2 separate regions of the Homo sapiens genome follow, and region 2 is linked to region 1. The links come from fine-mapping of genetic effects on gene expression. A gene starts in region 1. The other region holds a variant in brackets. All regions are shown on one strand. Distances are from middle to middle. Region 1 holds the start of AIRIM (AFG2 interacting ribosome maturation factor). Region 2 overlaps EPHA10 (EPH receptor A10).

The links. PIP is the estimated chance that this variant, and not a neighbour inherited with it, causes the effect.
Region 2: its variant is the best candidate, but not a certain one, in a credible set for the expression of AIRIM in lymphoblastoid cells (GTEx, PIP 0.76).

Annotation. Positions count from the first base shown.
Region 1 is chr1:37,685,059-37,696,279 of GRCh38, reverse strand. It overlaps AIRIM (AFG2 interacting ribosome maturation factor), which reads left to right and starts at 5,751. Exons shown (of 5, transcript NM_001350770.2): 1 at 5,751-6,278; 2 at 6,397-6,674; 3 at 9,828-10,007. The coding sequence starts at 6,400. CDCA8 (cell division cycle associated 8) reads right to left here and starts at 3,764. Exons shown (of 10, transcript NM_001256875.2): 1 at 3,496-3,764; 2 at 3,247-3,375; 3 at 330-370. The coding sequence starts at 3,589. RefSeq lists enhancers at 2,983-3,491, 3,492-4,002, 4,041-4,230, 4,003-4,512, 4,513-5,023 and 3 more and silencers at 4,461-4,630, 4,651-4,710.
Region 2 is chr1:37,717,123-37,725,122 of GRCh38, reverse strand. EPHA10 (EPH receptor A10) reads left to right here. Exons shown (of 17, transcript NM_001099439.2): 9 at 1,751-1,812; 10 at 1,957-2,082; 11 at 3,278-3,463; 12 at 4,279-4,340; 13 at 4,569-4,772; 14 at 5,065-5,214; 15 at 5,516-5,709; 16 at 6,307-6,462; 17 at 6,637-8,000. The coding sequence ends at 6,751. Among named protein-coding and RNA genes, the nearest start is that of CDCA8, 29 kb to the right of the region's middle. The variant T/C (reference allele first, on the strand shown) is at 3,348.

The DNA of each region.
Region 1 (11,221 bases):
AACACCTTTATCATCTAGCAGGCCAATGCATAGTGTAATGACTCAGGCGCTTAAAGGAACTTGGGCTTGAGGCTTTCTACTTCCGCTGTAGAGTTCAGAACAAAGGACTGCAAGAAATTGGTCAAAAACAGAACTGCCACCTTCTGTAGGGCTCAGAACTATCTGGGTCTCATGTATACAGTGTCTGGTCCAACTCTAATTTTTCAGTTGACACAAACAGATGATGTCCCTTTATGAAACCTCTTCCACAGTAAGCATCTATTAGTTGGATCTGGGGACTGGACTAGACTTAAGTAACCACTGGCTGGAAAATAGGAAAGGTCACTTACTGTTGCCGCCTCTTCCAGGGCCTGTTTGTTTCCTCCAAGGGCTTTAAAAAGAACGTTGTAGTTACTATTACATTTTAACAATAAATCATCTTGCCTAATAGTACCATTTATCTTTCTAAAACTGGTCCAGCCCTTGGTCTAACCTTCAAGGACCTTCACCATCTAATCTATTCTTTCTCCAAGTTATATCCCAAATGTGCCACTGACTCTCATGACTTGTTGCCATGGTACTTTGTATTTCCTCTGCCTGAAATTCACCTCCGTACTTAACAAATTTCTAACTCATCCTTCAAAACTCAGCTCAAACATCACCCCAAAAATTCTGCTTATTTTTCTTTTTAAAAAATATATTTTAAATTTTATTTATTTTTGAGACAGAGTCTTGCTCTGTCACCCAAGCTGGAGTGGAGTGGCGCCTCCTTGGCTGTCTCCTGGGCTCAACTGATCCTCCCACCTTGGCCTCCCAAGTAGCTGGGACTACAGGCATGCGCCACCACATTCGGCTAATTTTTGTGTTTTTTTGTAGAGATAGGGTTTCGCCAAGTTGTCCAGGTTGTCTTTTTTTTTTTTTTTTTTTTTTTTAAGTAGAGATGTGGTCTCCTGCTATGTTGCCCAGGCTGGTTTTGAACTCCTGGGGTCAAGTGATACTCCTGCCTTGGCCTCCCAAAGTGCTAGGATTATAGGCATGAATCCCCACCCTATGCCCTGCCCTCTGCTTATTTTTCTTTTTTAAAAATTTATTTTTAATTATTTTTTTTAAAGCTTAAAGATATGGTCTTGTTATGTTGCCCAGGCTGGTCTCAAATTCCTGGGCTCAAGTAATCCACCTGCCTTGGCCTCCCAAAGTGCTGGAATTCCAGGTGAGCCACTGTGCCCAGCCTGCTTATTTTTCTATCTCAGCAGTTTGCTGCAAAGTGTAGAGTTAGTTGCTCACCCTCATTATACCCAATAACTACTCAAAGCTGTTTAAATGTCCATCCCTGCCTTGGACTGAATTCCAGAGATGACATCCTTTGCTTCTGGCAAAAATCTAGCAGTCAATAGATGTACAGTAAACGTGTTGAATGAAAAGGTCTTTGTGAGATTTACATGTAGAATAAAAAGTTAGGTTAGAACCTCCTGCTAGAAACTCTCATAGTATCTTGTAAAACAGTTAAGATCTCAGGCTATGAAACCAGAATACCTGGGTTCAAACAGACTATCCCACTAACTAGCTTATGAGGCCTTGAGCAAAGTGTCCAATTTCTCTGTGCCTTAATCTTGTCATTTTGAAAAATAGGGATATTATTAGTTATGAAGAAAAATTAGTTAATGTATGTAAAACACTTGGTACAATGCCCATCTGGCATAGAAAGCACAATATGCTCACTGACCACTACTCTATTCTATCTCCTTTGTAGTACCTATACTTTTAATTACATAATTGTATGTGGATTTTTCTAATAGCTCTTTTCTACTAATCTGTATGTTCCTGAAGGCAGAGACAATGTCTGTTTTATTCCCTAGTGCATCTTTAGCACCTAGCACTGTGACTGACACATGCTCAGTATTTGGAGAAATAAGCAAATGAATGGCTTAATAAATAAAAGGGCAAGTCAAAAGGATCATTCAATGTCTAATATGTGAGCAGACCATGCATTTCTATCCAGGAAGGAGACTACATGCTGGATAGTTAATAATAAGGAAAACAGAAAAGGGCAACCCAGCAGAAAAGTACAGCCTCCTGCATTTCTCCGGACATTTAATAAGGGAGTGCAGAAACAGGCTGGGATTTTTCTCTGGCCAGGAAAACTGATGTGTCTTTTTTTTTGAGACGGAGTTTCACTCTTGTTGCCCAGGCTGGAGTGCAATGGCGTGCTCTCAGCTCACCGCAACCTCTGCCTCCCAGGTTCAAGCGATTGTCCTGCCTCAGCCTCCAGAGTAGCTGGGATTAGAGGTATGCGCCACCACGCCCGGCTAACTTTTTTGTATTTTTAGTAGAGACAGGGTTTCTCCATGTTGGTCAGGCTGGTCTCGAACTCCTGACCTCAGGTCATCTGCCCGCCTCAGCCTCCCAAAGTGCTGGGATTACAGGCGTGAGCCACCACGCCCAGCCTGATGCGCCCATTTTTAGGTTAGCAATTTCCATAAGCTGCAGAAGGAGCTGCTTCGGGTTATTCTTCTATCTGAGCTCTGGTTAACTAACCATGTCATTTATTCATTCATTTTTAAATGGGTAAAATATACATATATTTTTAAAAATACTATTTTCTGGCCGGGCGCAGTGGCTGACTCCTGTAATCCCAGCACTTTGGGAGGCCTATGTAGGTGGATCACTTGAGGTCAGGAGTTCGAGACCAGCCTGGCCAACATGGTGAAACCCCGTCTCTACTGAAAATACAAAAATCAGCGGGGCATGGTGGCAGGCGACCGTAATCCCAGCCACTCCAGAGGCTGAGGCAGGAGAATCACTTGAACCCAGAAGGTGGAGGTTGCAGTGAGCAGGGATCGCACCACTGCACTGCACTGCACTCCAGCCTGGGTGACAGAGTGAGACTCTGTTTAAAAAAAATTAAATAAATTTCCTGATGTGTGAAAATTATGTGAAATTCACATTTCAGTGTATCCATAACTAAAATTTTATTGGAATACAGCCCATCCATGCCCATTCACTACAGCTGTTTTGGACCTGTAAACAGCAGAGCTGAGTTGTCCGACAGAGACCGCCCCGCCCGCCGCCCCCCAACCACCCCCCCATTTTTCATAGAGAAAAATGAAGTAGGGAAGTGAGACAGAGAGTGAAAGGGTCTGCAATTTTCCATAAGTGGTCATGTCAGATCTCATTAAAAGGTGACATCTGAGCGAGCCCTTTCTGAAGGGTGTCACCTAACCCCAAGGGGCTCCTGGCCTCCGCCCAGGGAAGCTCTCCAGCTCTTACCGAAGTAGTCAAGCCAGTTCATCTCGCGCAGAGCCTTGGGGAGCCGCAGGATCTCGATGTTGTAGAGGTTATCCACCTCCTTGAGGAGGTTCTGCCTGTCTGACTCAATTTGCTTGATTCGTATTTCCACTGCGGGAGGGCAGAGCCGACAGGACACGGGTCACGGGCGGGCGAATCTGTGCAGCTCGTGTCCCCACCCGCCAGCATCCCGCGACCGCCCCAGGAGGCCGCGACGGCCTGGCCCCTTACCTTCACGGTCGAAGTCTTTCAGAAAGGAGGCGAGCTTCCGCCTCCGTAAGGAGTTGGTCTTGGCCACCCGACTACTGCCCTTCCTAGGAGCCATGGCGCTCGGCGGAGGCTGCGGGGAGCGGCGGAGATGGGGCAGGGAAGCAAGAAACTGGGTAGGGACGAGGAGGGCGGACGGGGACCACCCGAAGAAGTCGCCAGGCACGTACCTGCGGTCCCGAGACAAGGGCTGAGCAAAACCTCGCTGTGCCAGTGAGAGAGAGCGGCTCTACAGTCAACCGCCACCCAATTCAAACTCCACAGTCACAGGCTGACGAATGAGAAGCCGCCGTCCCACAACATCCAATCACAAGCAAGTTCCTGCCGGCCCAGGGTCTTCCGCCCAATGCGCCCCCTATAGCCTGAGTGCGACAGCGAGGCCGCCGCCGTCGCGGGTACTCCTGGGAGTTGTGGTCCAGGCTTGTTTCCCCGCCCTCCCCACCAACCCACCCGGCTCCGCCCTGGCCGGCTGCGAACTATACAAACTACTACTCCCGGCAGGCCTTGTGGCGGCTCTGCAATACCCCAAGCTCTGGAGGGCTGGGGGCCTACTAGGTCAGGTCGGCTGTAGGATTCTGCTCCAGGGTTGGCGGCTGCTTCTTTCTGGCCTGGCTGCCACTGAGTAGCCGAGGGGCCGCCGTGACCCTCTGACTGATTGACTGGCTGGCTGCCTACGTCGGCGCTCCTCAGGGCCCCAAGCTCCTCAGGCCGAACTTCGGGCAAGTGGCGGGTCGGCAGAGACAGAGCAGCCCCGGCAGGGTTTGACAGAGCAAGGGGGACGGAATGATAGAGGAGCAGGGCAGGGGTGCAGGCTTTGGGGGGGGCGCGCTATCCCGCGGCCAGTCTGGGCAGCGAGTGGGGGGAACCCTGTCGTTCCTCGCTCCCCCGCGGGCCGGCCACTCCCGCCCAGTTCGCGTGTTGGCGCCTCGACTGGGTGCGCAGCGCGGGGCTGCGACTTCAGGTGCAAGTAGTGGCGCTTGGCAGCTGGCCACACGGTGACTGCAGCATGAGCCGCGGCCACCAGGCTCCAGGGAGCCCAGGGCAGGAGGCAGCTCTGGGTGTCGTGGCCGTGGGCCTGGGAATGGGCGTGTAGACGGCGAGCCCCGCCGAGCCGCGGTCCTGTCGGAGGTGCTAACTGTGCATCTTGGTATCTGCCCACGGCCACAGGGTTGGATTGCTCAAGAGTTGTGCTGAGACCCAGAAGGCTAGAGGCTAGTTTCGAAGCTGTAGCTCAGGCTGAGTCTCAAGGCGGGCGGCGACTGGACGGCCAGACCGGCGAGCTCTTGACGGGTTTGTGGCCTGATTGTTTGGATTTGGTGCTTTTCACCTGTGGATGCGGTCTGAAGCCATGTCAGAGGGGTTGTGTTTAAGCGTGCATGTTATAGGCTATGGGAGTGATAATCTTGCCTCTCCCCCTCTGAGTTGAGGAACAATCGAAGAAATAAGCAAAGGTGCCAAGCAGGCTCCTGATGGGCACCAGCGAGCTTGGGGACAGAGCAGTCCAAGCATAGAAGTCCTGGCAAGCCTGGACCTTCCTGGAAAGTCCTTTCTCTCTCTTCCACCCTGGTCTGTTGCTCCATATGCAACAAATATTTGAATGTCGCTCTTCCGCCCGAGGTCAGCCCTGGGCAGTGGGTAGTGGGGGTGACACCCCAGTCTGCTGGGTGCCTGAGGATCTCCATCAGTCAGATGGCCAAGATGAGACGGGATGACAACCCGTACCTCATGTAGGCTTTCCCCCTGCAGGTGTTTTTATGCTGCGCAAGTCGGGCTTCCAGCCTCTCGGTTTCAGGGTTTCCTTCACCCTACTCCCCAGTGAGCCCGAACTCCCTGGGCACCTAGGACGTCCACCTGCATTTTAGCCAGAGCTGCCACGTCAGGAGCCCGTGATTTACTAGTTTTTGCCAGTTGGTTGTGATACACAATGTCAAAAGTGTCATTAAGGCACAACCGGAGGCGCAAGATAAGAGGAAAAGACTCCACAGCTAACAGGACATGCCACCACCGCCACCCAATTTAAACTGCCGCAGGCTGACAAATGAGAAGTCGCCGTGTTTGGACGGTCCCAACATCCAATCCCAAGGAAGCTTCAAGCCGAGTGGCCAGTCCACATGTTGGACTACAGTACCCAGAAGTCATTGCGGCACTACGATATATTTTCGCGACTCAGTAGCCAGGCAGGCCCGCGGAGTAGCTTTGTGGGGAGGTCGCGTGTGAGCATGCGCAGAGAGACTGTGGGCGCGTGGTGCAGTCCCTGGAGGGTTCTCACGCTTTGGCTGTCTGGACTTTTAAGTTTTTCCGCTTTTTCAGGAAGGCGACCGGCAGCCTCGGGCAGGGGAGACAGGACTGTATGTCAGAGAAGAGACGGCGCTTGGACGCCAGGAATCCTCTGAAGCAGGAGACTGCCCTATCCAGGTTACCCTTCCCGAGGGGAAACCAGGGTCTCCTTCAGAAAGCTGAGGCAGGCCGGGCGCGGTGGCTCACGCCTGTAATCCCAGCACTTTGGAAGACCGAGGCGGGCGGATCACCTGAGGTCAGGAACCCCGTCTACTAAAAATACAAAAATTAGCCAGGCGTGTTGGCGGGCACCTGTATTCCCAGCTACTCGGGAGGCTGAGGCAGGAGAATTGCTTGAACCCGGGATGCGGAGGTTGCAGTGAGCCGAGATAGCGCCACTGCACTCCAGCCTGGGCGACAGTGAGACTCCGTCTCGAAAAAAAAACAAAAAAAAAACCCTGCTTCTGGAGGTGAGACAACTCCTGTCTGAACACGATAACAGAGATGACGCCCACCCTCGACCCAGTGCCTCCCCGACTGACTTGGCACCCCAACGTGGTTATTTTCTGTTTTTATCTTTTTCAGCAGAAGATGACTCAAGACCGGCCTCTGCTTGCCGTGCAGGAGGCGCTGAAGAAGTGCTTCCCCGTGGTGGAGGAGCAGCAGGGCCTGTGGCAGAGTGCCCTGCGGGACTGCCAGCCCCTCCTGTCCTCCCTCAGCAACCTGGCGGAACAGCTGCAGGCCGCACAGAACCTGCGGTTTGAGGATGTGCCGGCGCTTCGGGCCTTCCCAGATTTAAAAGAGCGGCTGAGGCGTAAGCAGCTGGTGGCTGGTGACATCGTCCTGGACAAGCTAGGGGAAAGGCTGTAAGCAGCTCCCTAGTGCTGTTTCTTGGTGGAAGGATTTTAAAACGAGGTGTTTTATATGTAGCTAGTGTCAGTCCAGAAGGTGTTTTTCTCCTTGAAAGCGTGGCATGTGGAGGTATCTCAACCTTCCTTACTTCATCTGGGGCAGTGGGACCTCGGTCAGAAAGCCATTTTCTGGCATTTTCTTTGTCAGAGACTAGGCATGGCAGTGGTGGGCTTAGTAGAAGTCACAAAAGAAGAAGAGAAAAGGAGCGGAGAAAGCCTATTAGCTCTGCCCTATAGTTTTCTTTGGTAAAAGGCAGTGAGGAGCTGTGTAAACTTAGTAGGTGCTAGAGCTAAGGGGTTTATGTATATTACGTTATAAAGTCTCTTCAACATATCTGTGACTTAACTGCACTTAATTCTATGCAGGTAGGAAACTGAAGCTTAAGCAGATTGCCCATGGTGACGCAGCTAGAAAAGGGTAGAGCTGGGATTCTAACTCAAGTGTGCCTGACACAAAGGCTAGAGCTCTTAATCACCACTTTGTTCTGCTGTAGATTGGTGTCTCTGTGCCCAGGAGTAGCACGTCTCCAAGTTCTGATATGCTTGTTGTCAGACCCAGTGCCTGCGTTACAGATTTTTTTTTTTTTTTTTTTTTGAGACAGGGTCTTGCTCTGTCACTCAGGCTGGAGTGCAGTGGCACAATCACAGCTCATTGTAGCCTCGATTTCCCTGGTTCAAGCGATCCTCCCACCTCAGCCCCCCAAGTACCTGGGACAACAAGCGTGCACTTCCATGCCCAGCTAATTTTAAAATTTTTTGTAGAGATAGGGTCTCACTATGTTGCCCAGGCTGAGAGTTACAGGTTATTGAGGACAGAGGGGAGACAGGGCATGTGTGGCCTTTCCTTGAACTGGAACAAAAGAAAGTTCCAGTATATAGAGTCTGTCATAGACTAATAGGAAACTGTCACAGATGAGGACTTTCCTTTTATTTATTTGTACAAAATACGTTCATTAGGCACCTTGTGGGATGCCAAGCACAAGGTGCCAAGAATATAAAAATGAACCAGATTTAGTTCCTGTTCTTAGTTGAGTAGAAGAAATAAACAATCAGTGAATTAAATTGTGGGATGTCCTAAGATATTGATAAGTACGGCTTGTGTGGAGTGGGGAAGTTTCTGGGGAGGAAGTGATATTAAAAACCTAATGGTTGAAAAGATGTAAACAGAGTCAAGACGTGGGTATGAGTAGTGTGCATAGAGAATAGTATGACTGGCCCGGCACGGTGGCTTATGGCTGTAATCCCAGCACTTTGGGAGGCAGATCACTTGAGGTCAGGAGTTCGAGACCAGCCTGGCCAACATGGTGAAACACCATCTCTACTAAAAATAAAAAAAGTTAACTGGCTGTCGTGGCACACACCTGTAGTCCCAGCTAAAGGGGAGGCTGAGGCAGGAGAATCTCTTGGACCTGGGAGGCAGAGGTTGCAGTGAGCCAAGACTGTCCCACTGCACTCCAGCCTGGGTGACAGAGCAAGACTCTGTCTCAAAAAAAGAGAGAAAAGTATGACAGGAGCAGAGGCCTGGTAAGAGATGAGATCAGCTGGGTATGGCAGCTCAGCCTGTAATCCCAGCACTTAGGGAGGCTGAGGCAGGAGGATCGCTTGAGCCTAGAAGTTTGAGACCAGCCTGGGCAACATAGTGAGATCCCATTCTCCATGAAAAGGAAAGCAAAACAAAAAAAAGATGAGGCCAGGTACGGTGCCTCACTCCTGTAATCCCAGCACTTTGAGAGGCTAAGGACAAGAGGATCATTTGAACCCAGGAGTGCTGTGAGTACCTATGAGTGCTTTACTTAATATTTTGTCTTTTATTTATTTTTATTTTATTTTTAGAGACAGTCTCACCCTGTTGCCCAGGCTGAAGTGCAGCGGTATGATCATAGCTTACTGTAGCCTCTAACTCCTCCTGCCAGCCTCCTGAGTAGCTGGGATTCCAAGAGCATGCCACCATACCTAGCTAATTTTTAAAATTTTTTGTGGAGATAGTCTTGCCATATTGCCCAGGCTGGTCTCAAATTCCTGGCTTCAAGCTGTCCTCTGGCCTTGCCCTCCCAAACTACTGGGATTACAGGCATGCCACTGCACCTGTTTTTTTTTTTAAATGTTTTAATTAAAAAAAAATATATATTAGCTGGGCACGGTGGCTCATGCCTGTAATCCTAACACTTTGGGAGGCCGAGGTAGGTGGATCACCTGAGGTCGGGAGTTCGAGACCAGCCTGACCAACATGGAGAAACCCCGTCTCTACTGAAAAAAAAATACAAAATTAGCCGGGTGTGGTGGCGCATGCCTGTAATCCCAGCTACTCAGGAGGCTGAGGCAGGAGAATCACTTGAACCCGGGAGCCAGAGGTTGTGGTGAGCCAAGATCGCACCATTGCACTCCAGCCTGGGCGACAAGAACGAAACTCCATCTCAATAAAAAAACAAAAAACAAAAACAAAAACTATACACACACACACACACACACACACACACACACACACACACACACACACACACTTTTGAGACGGAGTCTCGCTCTGTCACCCAGGTTGAAGTGCAGTGACGCGAACTTGGCTCACTGCAACCTCTGCCTCTGGGTTCAAGTGATTCTCGTGCCTCCCGAGTAGCTGGGTCTACAGGTGTGCACCACCACACCTGGCTAATTTTTGTATATTTAGTAGAGACGGGGTTTTGGGACATTGGCTGGTCTCAAACTCCTGACCTCAGGTGATCCACCCCGCTCAGCCTCCCAAAGCTGGGATTACAGGCAACAGCCTCTGCACCCAGCCCCTTTCTTGATTCTTGAGCCACCCGTACCTCCAAGACACTGTCACTAATCTCCTTAGACCAGTGGTCTCAATTGGAGATGGTTTTTCTATGAGGGGACATTTGGCATCATCTAGAGGCATTATTGGTTGTTATGGCTTATGGAGGGTATAGGTATAGTTTACACCTGTCATTTAGTGGGTAGGGGCCAGGCATGCTCCTACACGTCCTACAATGTACAGGGCAGCCCTTCACAACAGAGAATCATGTAGTCCAAAATATCAGTAGTGCCAAAATTGAGAAACCTTCCTTTATACATGTCTCATGATATTGCCTAATGTCAGACTCTTTCTTGCAGAGCCATCCTCCTCAAGGTGCGAGACATGGTCAGCAGCCATGTGGAGCGAGTGTTTCAGATCTATGAGCAACACGCAGACACAGTTGGCATTGATGCTGTCCTGCAGCCTTCAGCAGTGAGCCCCTCTGTGGCTGACATGTTGGAATGGTTGCAGGATATTGAGAGACATTATCGAAAGTCGTATCCTTTGCACACATTTCAGGTCACAGCCAGAGCTGTTCTAAGTCTTTCAAATTTCAGTTTTCACAAGATTGGAAAACTAAGTAGTTTGAGTCAGTTCTCTTTGGTTCCTGAACTTGGATTCTTCCTGCATTCCTTTGTATAATCCTTCCTCTAATAATTTATCGAGTAGCTACTACCTGTCAGGCACTGTTCTTGGTGCAAAGAGACAGGCATTGAAAAAGGCAAGTAGAATGCTGAATGGCGATAAGTGTTATGGAGAAAAATAAAGCAGGGAAAGTGAGGAGTGAGGGTGGAGTTGTGATTTAAAATAGGGTGGTCAGAGCAGGCTTCATGAGAAAGTGATATTTGAGCAGAGATCTGAAGAGGGTAAGGGAAAGAGCTATGTGGCTATTTGGGGAGAGAAAGTTACTAGGCAGAGGAAACATCAAATGCAAAGGCCTTGTGGTAAGAACATTCCTGGTCTATTCAGGAAATAGTAAGGAGGCTAGACTGGAGCATGAGGAGGAGCCTAACAGCAGGTGAGGGTAGAAAGACAGGGGGCTCGACTTTCTAGGGCCTTGAAGGTCTTTGAAAGAATTTGGGGTCTGGGCGTGGTGGCTCACACCTGTAATCCCAGCCCTTTGGGAAGCTGAGGTGGGAGGACTGCTTGAGCCCGAGAGTTTGAGACCAGCCTGGGCAACATGGTGAAACGCCGTCTCTACAAAAAATACAAAAATTAGCCAGGCATGGTGGTATGTGCCTGAAGTCTGTAATCCCAGCTACTCGGGAGGGTGAAGCTGGAGGATTGCTTGAACTGGGGGAGGTCAAGGCTGCAGTGAGCTGAGATCGTGCCACTGCACTCCAGCCTGGGTGATAAAGTGAAACTCTGTCTCCAAAAAAAAAAAAAAGAATTTTGGGCCAGGCATGATGGTGTGCAGCTATAGTCCCAGCTACTCAGGAGGCTGAGGTGGGAGGGTTGCTTGAGCGTGGGAGGTCAAGGCTGCAGTGAGCCTTGATTGCCAGCCTGGGTGTGATCACCAGCCTAGGTGACAGAGCAAGACCCTGTCTCAAACCACCCCCCGCCCACCCCCCCCCCCCAAAAAAAAGCATTCGAGTGACAGAAAAACCTCTTAGAAACTTGATTAAGGAGTAACAGGATAAGACCTATGTTTTTAACAGTATCATTCTGGCTTCGTTCTAGGGTAAGATTTGGGGTAGTGGGGGCAAGGGTA
Region 2 (8,000 bases), 30 kb before region 1:
ATCACTGGCCCCTGGACTACTCACCACCAAACCTACAAACCTGCCTGCTTCTGCACCCATCCTCACCCCCTTTTCTCTAGAGGAGGTGATCCTCCCAGCCAGGATCAGTCCTTCCACCTATGGCTGAACCCCACCCTTTTGCCATCTTGGGAGCCCACTATTACTCCTAATGTTCCCCTCTGCCCCCCATAACAGTGAACATGTGTGGAGGCTTGGTAAGCTGACATGCTGCTGTCTGGCAGGCCTATCTTTATCCTGATTTTATTAAAGAGAAAATGGAGCCACCCAGTCCCACAGCTACCGAGCGGAGATGCTGGGAAGCAGGTCCCTGCAGTCAGGTTCCGAGCCCAGGCTGTCAACACCCTGCGGTGGCCGCTTCCCCCTGTGTGACAGCCTAGCTCCTCCTTCCCATCTGTATCTACATGTGATCATCTCTGTTGTGAAAACTTCGGAAACTCCTCCCTTGGTCTCTCATCCTTGTACCTTTATGTGATTTCTCTCTACCATCCCCTCTACTTTCTCTGTCCTTGGTCCCTGTGATACCCTGCCCCAGTTTCCCTCTGCTCTCCTTCTGTTCCTCTGGCGATTCTTTTGTACTGTCCTTGGTGCTTCCTTCCGCTAGCCTAGATGTTGGGGTTTCTCAGACTTATTCCTAGTCCCTCTTCTCAGACTCCATCCTCTCCCTGGGCCATGCTCATTGCTCCTGATTTGTATCTGCAGAGCAGGCCTCTCTTCCAAGCTCCAGACACACACACACACGTCGAACGCCCGTCTTATCTTCCCTGCTTATCCCCCAGGCCTGCAAACTCAGATGTCTAAATGTGAACTTTTTGTCTCCTCATCCCAGTAAATGGCACCACCATAAACTGTGGGCAACTTCTCCCTCTTCCTTTCTGCCATCCAACAACCTCTCAGCCCTGTGGCCCCTGTCACCTTCATGTCACTCGAGTCCTCTGCCTCTCTCCATGCCCATGTTGACCCCATAGCTAGAACCACTGCCAGCTCCTCTCCTGTGGTGACACCCGTGGCAGCTTCCACTCTGCAACTGGAGCTCTTTCTAAAGTAGAAATCAAATCATTGCACTCCTCTGCTTCAACCCCACAGGGGCTCTCCTCTGCTCCCAGAATAAAAGCCAAAGTCTTTATCTTGGCCAGCAAGGCCCTGCCCCTAGGGGCCCCAAGTACCGGCCTGTGGCTTTGTTGACTGTGATGCAGTCCTTTGGCCCGTGGCTGCCTCTGTCTCAGGAAGCCCTCCACAATGACCTTGGATCAGGTCAGGCCTGTCTGTCCCGTGTCCCAACAGTACAGCACCTTTCTCCTTTGCCAGCACTGGTGAGTGGGCTTGTGGCTAACTCTCCATGTTTGTTTTCCTGACCAGACCAGAAGCTGCCCCCGAGTGCTGGATCCGCTTGCCTTATTCACACTTTCACAAAACCGCATGCGGGGGCAGCTGGGGGCCTGCAGCCAGGATGTGGATTGGGTGCCTCTGGAGTTGCAATAATTTTCACCATGTGAAAGTAGCTAGGGATGGTGGTGGTGGTGACGGTTTGGTCTAGGGCTACGGTTGTATCTGTGCCATGGGGAGGTCGTCAAACCACAGAGAAGCTTTTAAACCAGCTGGACAAGAAGTTCCCTCCCCCAGGGCACAGGCCTTGTCTTTTGAAGGGACAAAGAGGTGCTGCCCTCAGTGCTCTGTAATGGGAAGGGCCGGGGTGGCCTGGCTGAAAGAATGACCCTGAACTCCCTGCCAGGCCCTGCAGCTATGGCAAAGGAGGAGGGGATGCCCATGATGAAGAGGAGCTGTATTTCCACTGTGAGTTGGCTGGGCCTGGCTGGGGAGGGGCGGGCTCCACCCTGCCTCACTCCTCAGCCCTCTGCCTTGCTACACTGCATGAGCCCGCTTGTCAGCCCCAGTGGTGGAGGCCCCATTCCTCAGGCTCATCTCTTTCTCTCCCAGTCAAAGTCCCAACACGTCGCACATTCCTGGACCCCCAGAGCTGTGGGGACCTGCTGCAGGCTGTGCATCTGTTCGCCAAGGAACTGGATGCGAAAAGCGTCACGCTGGAGAGGAGCCTTGGAGGAGGCAAGCTGGGCGCCCAGGAAGCCTTGTCCCCATCTGGAAGCCTCACCCACTCTATAGGCCCCGCCCCTACTCTGTCCACACCTCTATCCTGAAGCCCACCTCCACCCAGGTCTCTGCTCGTGTCTGGAAGCCCTGCCTCCACACCAAGCCCACCCTCCACCCAGAAAGTCCCTGGCTTGCCTGATTATAGGGAAGAGGATGGCAGAAGGGTCTGTGACCCTCTCCTGGTCCTCAAGGTCAGACCTCTGCACACTGCCACTGGCAGTTTAGTCCCAGGCCTTCATGGGGCAGTGGGGAGGGGCCTTTGCAAGCTTAGGGGCCAGACATAACTGAGTTCTAGTCCTGGCTCTCCCACTGACCCGCTGCATGATCAGGGTCATGGCCCTGTTTTGCTCAGAGCCTCAGTTTCTCATCTGAGAAATGGGCATGATATCTGCCTTCTGGGGGCTAATGTGGGGAACTCCCAGCACTCCTCACAGGGCCTGGCTGTCGGCGCTTGCTCTCTAAGGGCCAGTCTTCTGCTAGCCTTTCTTCCTGACTACAAATCCTCAGCCTCCTGTGCTCAGAGACGGTAGCTGCTTTCACTGGGAGCCTGACATTATCCCCTGACACTGTCTCCAGACCCGCTGGACAGAAGCCGGAAAGGGGCAGGGTGGAAGAATAGATGTCATTGTCATCCATCCTGGGTCACATGGGGTTTGATGGCAGTCGGCGTGCTGGCATATGCCCTGTCCTTTCTTTAAGGCTTGGAAACCTCCCCCCACTGAGGAAGGCAGAGAGGAATCCCCATTTCACAGAGGAGACAGGCCAAGAAAAGGAAAGAGATGGAATTCGAGGTCACACTGCTGGTACTCAGTTTACCAGGATTTAAGCTGGAAACAGTCCATGATCTGGAGTCACTTTTTTTTTTGAGACCGAGTCTTGCTCTGTCACCCAGTCTGAAGTGCAGTGGCACAATCTCAGCTCACTGAAACCTCTGCCTCCTGGGTTCAAGTGATTTTCCTGCCTCAGCTTCTCAAGTAGCTGGGATTACAGGCATGTGCCACCTTGTCTGGTTAATTTTTGTATTTTTAGTAGAGACTGGGTTTCGCCATGTTGGCCAGGCTGGTCAGAGTCACTTTCTCCTCGGCTCAGCCTGCCCAGCTCAGCCAGGGCAGTGGCCTCTGGCGGTATCTGAGGTGCTGTTTCCCCACAGGGCGGTTTGGGGAGCTGTGCTGTGGCTGCTTGCAGCTCCCCGGTCGCCAGGAGCTGCTCGTAGCCGTGCA[T/C]ATGCTGAGGGACAGCGCCTCCGACTCACAGAGGCTCGGCTTCCTGGCCGAGGCCCTCACGCTGGGCCAGTTTGACCATAGCCACATCGTGCGGCTGGAGGGCGTTGTTACCCGAGGTAGGGCCCGGTGCTCCCTTCCTGCTGCCCAGCCCACGGGTATGGGGGGTGGAAATGATGGTGTGGGAGTTTGGAGTGCCCCTGCCTCTCCAGGTCCTTCCCTCAGCTATGGGAGGGAGCTTCAGCCAGGGACCTCAGCTTTCACTGACTCAAGGCGGCCCTTCTCCTGGAGCGGCCACTCTGGCTCAGAATGACCTTTCTTTTCTTTCTTTCTTTCTTTTTTTTTTTTTTTGAGATGGAGTCTCGCTCTGTTGCCCAGGCTAGAGTGCAGTGGTGAGATCTCGGCTCACTGCAAGCTCTGCCTCCTGGGATCATGCCATTCTCCTGCCTCAGCCTCCCGAGCAGCTGGGACTACAGGTGCCTGCCACCAGGCCCGGCTAATTTTTTTGTTTTTTTTTTTTTTTAGTAGAGACGGGGTTTCACCATGTTAGCCAGGATGGTCTTGATCTCCTGACCTCGTGATCCACCTGCCTCGGCCTCCCAAAGTGCTGGGATTACAGGCGTGAACCACCGCGCCTGGCCAGGATGACCTTTCTGACCTGTGATAGGTCCCCTAGAATATCACTCCTAGAAAGAGTGATCTTTCTTAGCAAGCTTGTTGCAGCTCATGACCTTGGACTTTGTTCACCTACAGATGTCTCCTCTTTTGTTCCTTGGCATAGAGGACCCTGGGCTGGGCAGGAGGATGGCGAGATTAGGGAGCTTGGTGCTGGTTCTGGCTCTCGAGGCCCAGTCTGGGACCCTGGGGGGGAAACTTGTGTGCGTGCGGAGTGGAGTGGACAACTTAGCATGTGTGTTCCCATCCCTGGGCACAGGAAGCACCTTGATGATTGTCACCGAGTACATGAGCCATGGGGCCCTGGACGGCTTCCTCAGGGTGAGTGGCCCTGGGGCTGCCAATGACCACTTTATTCTGTAAAGCGGGCAGGGGTCCCTCACTTTTCTCTTTGGTAGGGCTTGGAATTGGCATCATCCCCACTGGCCGGGCTGACCTGTGGTCACAGGGTGAACTAAAGCCTGGCGAGAGCTAGGTGACCGCCCTGGTGTCACACAACACCAGGGGATCCAAGCGCACAGCCCTGGCCTCAGTCTTCTCCCTCCACAGCGGCACGAGGGGCAGCTGGTGGCTGGGCAACTGATGGGGTTGCTGCCTGGGCTGGCATCAGCCATGAAGTATCTGTCAGAGATGGGCTACGTTCACCGGGGCCTGGCAGCTCGCCATGTGCTGGTCAGCAGCGACCTTGTCTGCAAGATCTCTGGCTTCGGGCGGGGCCCCCGGGACCGATCAGAGGCTGTCTACACCACTATGGTGAGGGCGCCCCCAGCCAAGCCTGCCTGTGCCTTCTGGTTCCCACCAAGCTGCCCTGGAGCCCTTAACTCCCCACTTCTACTCCTTTCCCTGCCCCTCCACCCAGTTGGTCTTGGCATAAATGCGAGTGAACCCCACCTTGAGGTCAGCTTTTCTGTCTTTCCCAGATGTGAAGCTGGAGTTGGGGGTTGCCTGGGAGGATGACATGCAGGCTGGATCTGGGGCTCAGTGGGGTGGGGAAACCTGCGTGTCACCCAGTTCCTCCTTGCCCCTGACCTGCCTGCCCCTACAGAGTGGCCGGAGCCCAGCGCTATGGGCCGCTCCCGAGACACTTCAGTTTGGCCACTTCAGCTCTGCCAGTGACGTGTGGAGCTTCGGCATCATCATGTGGGAGGTGATGGCCTTTGGGGAGCGGCCTTACTGGGACATGTCTGGCCAAGACGTGAGTAACCCGTGGCTCCAGCTGCATGCCTTCTGACCCTCTCAGCTCAGGCCCCAGCTTCCTGACCTCTGCCCGTTGGCCCTCAATCTTCCTGCCTCAGGCCCCTCTTCTCTGTCTGCTTGCTTCTGGTTCTGCCTGGCCACTGCCCCAGGCTTCCTTGGGTGTGTGTGTGTGTGTCTGTGTCTGTGTGTGCGCATGTGTGTGTGTGTGTCTGTGTCTGTGTGTGTGCATGTGTGTGTGCACACACCATATGCTGGGGAAACCCAGAGCCTCCTCTCTGCTCCCCACCCCTGTGGCCCAGGTGATCAAGGCTGTGGAGGATGGCTTCCGGCTGCCACCCCCCAGGAACTGTCCTAACCTTCTGCACCGACTAATGCTCGACTGCTGGCAGAAGGACCCAGGTGAGCGGCCCAGGTTCTCCCAGATCCACAGCATCCTGAGCAAGATGGTGCAGGACCCAGAGCCCCCCAAGTGTGCCCTGACTACCTGTCCCAGGTACGTTCCCACATGGGACAGCCAGCCTCTCACCTGTCCGTGGAGGGCCTCCCTGCATGTTGCAAGTGCAAACCCACCGCCTCCACCACCCCACCTGTCCAAGAGCAATTGTTCACCCCATTGCCCCAGAGGGCTGTAGCCTGCCTGCCTGCCCAGGCCCACCTCACTGCACATCCTCCTGGTCACTTCTGCTTCTCCTGGATTTTGCCCACATCCCCGGGTACAATGACCTTTGACTGGAGAAATAGATGTGGTAATAGCCCTAACACATTTGTAGTTCCAATGAATCAAATATGTGAAATTAATATTCGTTGTTCCCAATATGAGTCACCAACCAGTCCTAGGCGTGTCCTACCCCAGACTGTTCCGGATACGCCAATACCTTTAGCTGGCGCTGGCTCTGCCTCCACCTGCCTGAAGAACCTGAAGCCCTCGCTTCTTCACGAATGCACAGTGCTCATGTGAGCCAGATCCAGCCCTGGGGCCCGGTTACCCTCCCCTTCTCCTGTCCATCCTCAGCTGGCCTCTCCCCGGGAGACCACCAGGTGTGGGCCCAGATCCCAGCTGTCGGTTGAGCACAGCTCCTCTGACCCGCAGGCCTCCCACCCCACTAGCGGACCGTGCCTTCTCCACCTTCCCCTCCTTTGGCTCTGTGGGCGCGTGGCTGGAGGCCCTGGACCTGTGCCGCTACAAGGACAGCTTCGCGGCTGCTGGCTATGGGAGCCTGGAGGCCGTGGCCGAGATGACTGCCCAGTGAGTCCAAGGCACCAAGGTCAAGGCCGGGGCTGGGGGATTCCACAGGCCCTGCCCCTGCCTATACTGGGGAGTCCCAACCTGTCCAGAGAAGCGGAGGGAGAGTGGAGGGCCTTCATGGGAGGAGCAGAAGTTGGGGACAAGCCAGCCGAGTGTGACCAGCCTTTGTTTCAGGGACCTGGTGAGCCTAGGCATCTCTTTGGCTGAACATCGAGAGGCCCTCCTCAGCGGGATCAGCGCCCTGCAGGCACGAGTGCTCCAGCTGCAGGGCCAGGGGGTGCAGGTGTGAGTGGACCCCATTCTTCCAAGGCAGGACTCCGGTGGGGGTCCAGTCCCCCAGCCCTGCCCAAGGACCGTGGCAAGCTGCGCTCCAGCAGTGTGGGAGGGAGCGCTCTCTTCCTCTGCTTGGGCCCAGATCTGGTGGGGCCACAGCTTCCCCGCTTTCACTGCCTGCCCCTCCCATTTTCACGAGTCTGAACGCCTTGGCTAACTCAGTGCCCCTGAAAAGAGGTTCAAATCCCTAGGGAGGACCCCTGAGATAACAGCAGGAGGAAATTCGGGGTCTCAGAGAAAAGCTGGGGCAGGGATGGGAGGGAAGACAGTGGGTTGAGATTGCCCTGGCTCATGCCCTACTGCCATTTGTACCCACTGGGGGCTGGGGCCTACCCCGTGGGGTGTTCCCTTTTCCCACAGACCCATTGACCAGTCAGACAGCGTGGGTCCTGGGGGGGTCTTCTTCTACCTGGCAGTGACTGCAGCTGCCTGGTGGCTCAGGCGTCGGGGGCTGGGCCAGAGGTGCATCCACCTCAGCTCCCTGTGCCTTGGCAGGGGCTGACTGGACACTGGCCAAGGCTCAGGCAGGCAAAGATGGTGCTGAGCTCAGGGGCTGATACCCAAGAGCCCTAGACTCAGGATCTGGTTTCTGTGTCCCCCTGCCTTGGGCTGACAGTTCAGGGTGAGGCCAAAAGTCCTGGCCAGGCCGGGCCATGAGAGGCCCTGGTGCTCCCTGGGGCCCCATGAGGCCCTCGTGTGCATTCCTTTTATGAACTTAGTGGCCAGGACATCTGGGAAAAGCATAAAGGGCCATGTTATCTCCCCAGGGACCCAAGAGCTTTTCTCTCCAGCCATGGGGAGGGTGAAGAGGAGACTCAGAGATGGGTCCTCTCTCTCAAACAGGCTGGTCTAACCCCCAGTGTACAGATGGGGGAAACTGAGGCCAAGTGAGGAGTCAGGAGCAGAGCTGAGGTCAGAACCCAATCCAGGGGTAAGGCTGGCTCTGGGGAGAGAGTCCTTGGTCCTGCCCTATGGCACCACCACTTCCCTGTACAGCCCTTGGGGACTCTAGAGGCGACTCCCCTCCAGCCAGCTCCGTGCCTTGGGCACTACCCAGCCTTCCATGGAGCCCCTCCCTGCTCTGACTTTGAAGAGCCCTGGCAGAAGTGGTTGTGCTGAGCCCACCGTGGAGTTCCTTATCCACAAGGGCCCCCGGGAATGGTGGGGCCCAGTATGCCAGAGCTTTCGTAGGGTGGCAGGAAGGC